Regions from separate parts of the Homo sapiens genome. Here region 2 is linked to region 1. Evidence: fine-mapped expression QTL. A gene starts in region 1. The other region holds a variant in brackets. All regions are shown on one strand. Distances are between the middles of the regions. Region 1 holds the start of MPG (N-methylpurine DNA glycosylase). Region 2 overlaps RAB11FIP3 (RAB11 family interacting protein 3).

Region 1 (2,899 bases):
GCAGGGAGGGTGTGGAATCACATCCAGGGCTGCTTTATAAACACGGATTGATGACACATTATGCCCCCACCCCGGGAAGCGGCACACAGTGCTACAAACAGCTGGTGGCTTCCAGCCGGCTGATGGCCCCTCCCTCCCCAGGAAGTCCTGGCTGGGGCCCATGGGGGTGGGACGGCTGGTCAGAGGAGGAGAGGCAGTTGGAGACCAGGTCCTGCCCTGTTAGCCTTTCTGTAGGACCAGGTGTCACACTCATCTGAGGGCTCCAGACACATGGCCTGTGCGTCTGTCCTGCCCAGCGTCTCCCACCTGACGCGGCCAGGTGCCCAGTTGCTCTTCAAGGCCTTTTCAGGTGCTCCTTTCCAGGACCAGGGTCACAGAAGTCAAAGCTCAGGAAAAGCCCCTCGAGGGTTTTTGTGCGGCAGAGGTGGGTTGTGGGGTGGGATTGTGCCTGCCACAGTGGAGGGGCCCTGCAGACCCAGATAAACCTTCAAGTGGCCAGAAGCGGGGGATGGCTCTGCTGGGTGCTGGGGCTGCCATGGGCCGTGGGAGCCAGCAGTGTGCCCAGCTCCCTCAGGGCCCGTCCCCTAGGCCCTTCCGTCCACTGGGCCAAGCACCGTCCCTGCCCCTCCCTAGGGGCATGGATCTGACTTGAGAGGTTGTGAGAGCTTACAGGCGCTGGGCCGTCGGGGAGGCCTCAGAAGCGTAGGACGGCTGCGCACTGCCGGGCCGTGTTCAGCCCTGGTCTGGCCTCGGCCTCTAGAGGAGGCTGCCTGCGCTCCAGCAGGCCCAACCCAGAACGTGGGCGAGCTCCCTTCAGCATCCCTGGGCGGAAAGAGGGATGGGGGCTCTGCTGCAGAGGCAGAATCCGCGCCGCTCCCTCCTTCCTTCCCCCGACCAGCCTGTGACAACCCCGGCCAGGGGCGGGGGCCTCCGCACAAGCCTGGCGTCCACTTCCTGGATAAGGACTCCCCGGCCCACTCCGGACCAGGGCTGGGGCGGCCTCCCAGGCGCTCACTCCGCTGGCACCCCACCGGAAAACACGTCTGCGGCCCGCCCCCTCCCCCAAAGCACGACCACTCCGCCCGGGCCCCTCGAGGATCCACTCAGGTTCACGACGGGCCCGTCCTCTCGGTGGTCTGACCACCGGCTGGTGGAGTGGGCTCTGGGGCCGCCAGGCGACCAGGGCGCAGGCGGGGGCGGACAGCTCATTGGGAGGGGCGCCGGGGCACAGTGCGGGGCTCGCCCCACCCCCAGGTGCCCCTTCCCCGCTCTCGCCTCGCAGGCACCGCATCGGGCCCGGGAATCGGTCCGGACCTGGCGGTGGGCGCTGGGAAGAGGATCCACCTCCACGTGGCCCGCCCCGCCCCGGGGGCGCAGCCAGTTCCCGGCGCTCACTGCCCCCCTTCTCCCGGCTTCCGTCCCCTTCTGCGCAGGCGCCGCTCCGCCCCGGTCCTAGGGGTGCTTCCGTGGTCGGCGGCTGCTGGGCTCCGCGCCGGGGTCCGAGTCCCACGAAGCCCCGGCCCGAGCCGCCGGATGCCCGCGCGCAGCGGGGCCCAGGTGAGCGCGCGCCTCGGCCGCCCCGCGGAACAGACGCGCCCACCCCCAGGCGCAGCAGCGAGCGCGGCCGCGGGAGCGGGAGTGCCGGGGACGGGCGTAGCGCCCACCGCCCCGAGGGTTCGGGGCAGAGCCAGAGCATAGGCCAAGGGCCAAGCTCGGGCCGAGAGCAGTGGCCGCAGCGCCCGGGGGCTGAACCCACGGCGCGCTGGCAGCGCGGGCCGAGCTGCGGAGACGGTCACGTCAGCGTCCGTTCCAGGCCGACTGGCAGTCTCCGTTCTACATTAACGTCAGCACTCCCGTTAAAAATAATGCATCTCTCCCATGCCAGGAGGACTTAGGTGCTGCTAAAGACCAGCCCTCCGGGTGCTGCCAGGCCGGCGCTCACCCGCCACCTTCATCTTCCCTTCTCCTTTGCCCCAGGACAGCCGAGGATGTGTGGTTAGGTTCCCCCTACCCATGGGGAGGCCAGAGGTGGGAGGCTGGCGGCCTGCTCGGTCTCAGCAGACCCTCCTAGTCCCTCAGGAGACCTTGCCTTTGCCCCACTTGCTCGTTATCCAGCCTGGGCCATGAAGCAGAGGACAGTTAGGGACCCTGAGCACGCGGTGGTCACCCCGGTGCTCACCCCTCCCTGTGTGTCCGACCTTGGCCCTGCTAAGATCCTGTGTTTTGAATTCTGGCAAGGGTTGGATGAAAGGGCAGGGCTCCAGAAACCAGCTCAGACGTTTGCTTGGGACCTGCATGATGAGTGGGAATCGGAGGGCACCAGCCCTGCTGTCCCAGGCTCAGGCCCCCATCTGCTCCCCAGGTCATGCAGCCTGGGCCCCCATGCCGTGCAGCTCGCACATATGTGGGGCAGAGCAGCCACCCTGCCCCCAGCAGCAGCCGTCCATCGTCAGACGTGATCATTTCCTGAGGCCTCGAGTGTGTCAGGGTGTTTGTGCCTCATAACAACCCACAGGATGGTCACCCCCGCTTTGCAGATGAAGAAACCAAAGCAGGTGGTCAGATCCAGTCCTTGCACTTCCTGAGCCTGACCTTACCACACAGCTGTCTCCTATTCGGATGCTTATTTATTTTTTTTCCCATTACAGTTTTGCCGACGGATGGGGCAAAAGAAGCAGCGACCAGCTAGAGCAGGGCAGCCACACAGCTCGTCCGACGCAGCCCAGGCACCTGCAGAGCAGCCACACAGCTCGTCCGATGCAGCCCAGGCACCTTGCCCCAGGGAGCGCTGCTTGGGACCGCCCACCACTCCGGGCCCATACCGCAGCATCTATTTCTCAAGCCCAAAGGGCCACCTTACCCGACTGGGGTTGGAGTTCTTCGACCAGCCGGCAGTCCC
Region 2 (2,899 bases), 420 kb after region 1:
GCCTGACCAACATGGTGAAACCCCGTCTCTACTAAAAATACAAAAATTAGTTAGGCATGGTGGCACACATGCCTGTAATCCCAGCTACTCAGGAGCCTGAGGTAGGAGAACTGCTTGAACCCAGAAGGCAGAGGTTACAGTGAGCCCAGATCACGCCACTGCACTCTAGCCTGGGCGACAGAGCAAGACTGTCTCAAAAAAAAAAAAAAAAAAAAAAGCTCCATCTGCAGTTATCTGTCGTTAGAGTTTACAAAACAGAGACCTCTTCTGCAGTGTGTCTATCCACATGTAAATATATGTACACAAGATTTAATCTGTTGTTTTGCCCCAAATCTGCCACAAGAGGCTAAGGAAGAGCAAAATAAACGTCGCGATTCGCTTCTCACAGTTCTCAGCCCTTCGCGCTGAACTATTGCTGAGATGGTGGGTTTTGCCAGCAGCCATTGTAGCCCCCGGGCCTGGCTGCATTGCTCACCTCCCTCAGCCTTGTTCTGTCCCTGTCCATGAGATGGAAGTGGCTTTCTCCAGTCAGCTGTGTGTGCAGAGACCGGGGGCTCCGGGCAGAGCCGAGTCCATCAGGACTGGAGGAAGTGCTCACAGCAGGCAGGCTCCCTGGGCCCTGGGTGGGAGGCCTCAGGGATCCCCGTACCTCCTTGCTCACCAGCCAGGCTCGACCTACTGCCCTGTGGGGCAGGTCAGGCTTTTTCCACAGCTCCCTCTCTGGGAGGAGGGTCCTTCCAAGTGAGGGTGTGGTGTAGCTGGAGAATCCCTCTTTCTAGGGGATTTAAATAAGCAGCCCCAGCCGGACGCGGTGGTTCACGCCTGTACTCCCAGCACTTTGGGGGGCCGAGGCGCACAGATCACGAGGTCAGGAGTTTGAGACCAGCCTGGCCAACATAGTGAAACCCCATCTCTACTAAAAAAAACAATACAAAAAGTTAGCTGGGCATGGTGGCAGGTGCCTGTAATCCCAGCTACCTGGGAGGCTGAGGCAGGAGAATGGCTTGAACCCGGAAGGCAGAGGTTGCAGTGAGCTGAGATTGCACCACTGCACTCCAGCCCAGGTGACAGTGCAAGACTCTGTCGCAAAAAAAAAAAAAAAAAAAAAAAAAAAAATTAAATAAGTAAATAAATAAGCAGCCGCATGACCCATGCTGAGGACCCTCTGCCTCACGTTGGTGGCCACGTG[T/C]GGTGGCTGCACGCTGGGTGCCTGGGGATGGCTGTGTCCCCGAGTCAGCCCCAGAAGTGCCTACGCCTCTAGGACAGCTCAGAAGTGCTGACAGGTCGTGGCCTCTCAGGATGGGCTCTGGGTTGCAGCTTCATGCCTGGAGTGGCTCATGTTTGGGGGCAAGGTCATGGGCGTTTAAGAGCAGCGACTGGCCAAGAACATGATCTGTATCAGCAGCAGCTTTTGAGAATCTGATGAAATCCCCAGAGCCCCAGAAGGGCACCGGTGTGTTCCAGCTGGTGCACGTTCACAGGGCTTGTCTCCTCAGAGCGTTTATGGGGAAAAAGATGGAAATGTTCAAGCCCAGTCCGTACTGAGAAGCAAATCGAACTTCATACACTTGGTAGACATTTTCAGTGGAAAAATATTAACATTTTATGGAATTCTTACTCTGCTACGTCCCTAGCCAAGCTGTTTGTATGCATGACCTTGGTTAAACCTCAGTTGCCTCTAGACCCCCATTTCATAGGCAAGGAAGCTGGGAGAGGGTCCCCCCATTTCATAGGCAAGGAAACTCGGAGAGGGTCCCCCCATTTCATAGGCAAGGAAGCTCGGAGAGGGTCTCCCATTTCATAGGCAAGGAAGCTGGGAGAGGGTCCCCCCATTTCATAGGCAAGGAAGCTCGGAGAGGATCCCCCCATTTCATAGGCAAGGAAGCTGGGAGAGGGTCCCCCCATTTCATAGGCAAGGAAGCTCGGAGAGGGTCCCCCATTTCACAGGCAAGGAAGCTGGGAGAGGGTCCCCCATTTCATAGGCAAGGAAGCTGGGAGAGGGTCCCCCCATTTCACAGGCAAGGAAGCTGGGAGAGGGTCCCCCCATTTCACAGACAAGTTCAGAGAGGCTCCCCCCATTTCATAGGCAGGGAAGCTGGGAGAGGGTCCCCCCATTTCACAGACAAGTTCGGAGAAGGTCCCCCATTTCATAGGCAAGGAAGCTGGGAGAGGGTCCCCCCATTTCACAGGCAAGGAAGTTCAGAGAGGGTCCCCCCATTTCACAGACAAGGAAGTTCGGAGAGGATCCCCCATTTCATAGGCAAGGAAGCTGGGAGATGGTCCCCCCATTTTATAGGCAAGGAGTCTGGGAGAGTGTCCCCCCATTTCATAGGCAAGGAGGCTGGGAGAGGGTCCCCCCATTTCATAGGCAAGGAGGCTGGGAGAGGGTCCCCCCATTTCATAGGCAAGGAAGCTCGGAGAGGGCCAGTGCTTTTTAACGGTCACGCAGTTCTGAGCATCAGGCTGTCAGCCTGGAGCCTGGCTTGGTACTGAGGTTCCCAGGATGTATAAAGAACTGAACACGCACCTTTGCTGTTGGCTCTTCTGTGCGAGTGCTCTGAGAGTTTTCTGTACTCCCGGCAAGTTTGGGTTGGTACAGATTCACCACAGCGAATCTGACCACGTGGTGACCACAAGCACGCGCTTACTGCGCGCCTAAGTTCACACTCCCTGGAGAAGCTCCTGCCCCAAGGCCGCAGCCTATGGGCCTTTGCGTCTACTCAGGACCATGAGGCTGTGTCCCCGAGCCTGGCCCGGGTAGTAACTGGCATGGCCTGCGGTGCTGGGGGCGTGTCCACAGGAGCTGGTGCCACAGAGGACACGTGTGTCTGCTGTCTTCCTGGACTCGGTCGGACCAGTTTCCCAGTGTGTCCGTGAGGGTGACACTGAGTGAGACTTC

Evidence for each region. PIP is the estimated chance that this variant, and not a neighbour inherited with it, causes the effect.
Region 2: its variant is the best candidate, but not a certain one, in a credible set for the expression of MPG in monocytes (TOPMed, PIP 0.80).

Annotation. Positions count from the first base shown.
Region 1 is chr16:76,777-79,675 of GRCh38, forward strand. It overlaps MPG (N-methylpurine DNA glycosylase), which reads left to right and starts at 1,449. Exons shown (of 4, transcript NM_001015052.3): 1 at 1,449-1,557; 2 at 2,649-2,899. The coding sequence starts at 1,534. RefSeq lists a silencer at 1,030-1,719 and an enhancer at 1,234-1,528.
Region 2 is chr16:499,601-502,499 of GRCh38, forward strand. The region is part of intron 6 of RAB11FIP3 (RAB11 family interacting protein 3); the gene reads left to right. Among named protein-coding and RNA genes, the nearest start is that of LINC00235, 26 kb to the right of the region's middle. The variant T/C (reference allele first, on the strand shown) is at 1,190.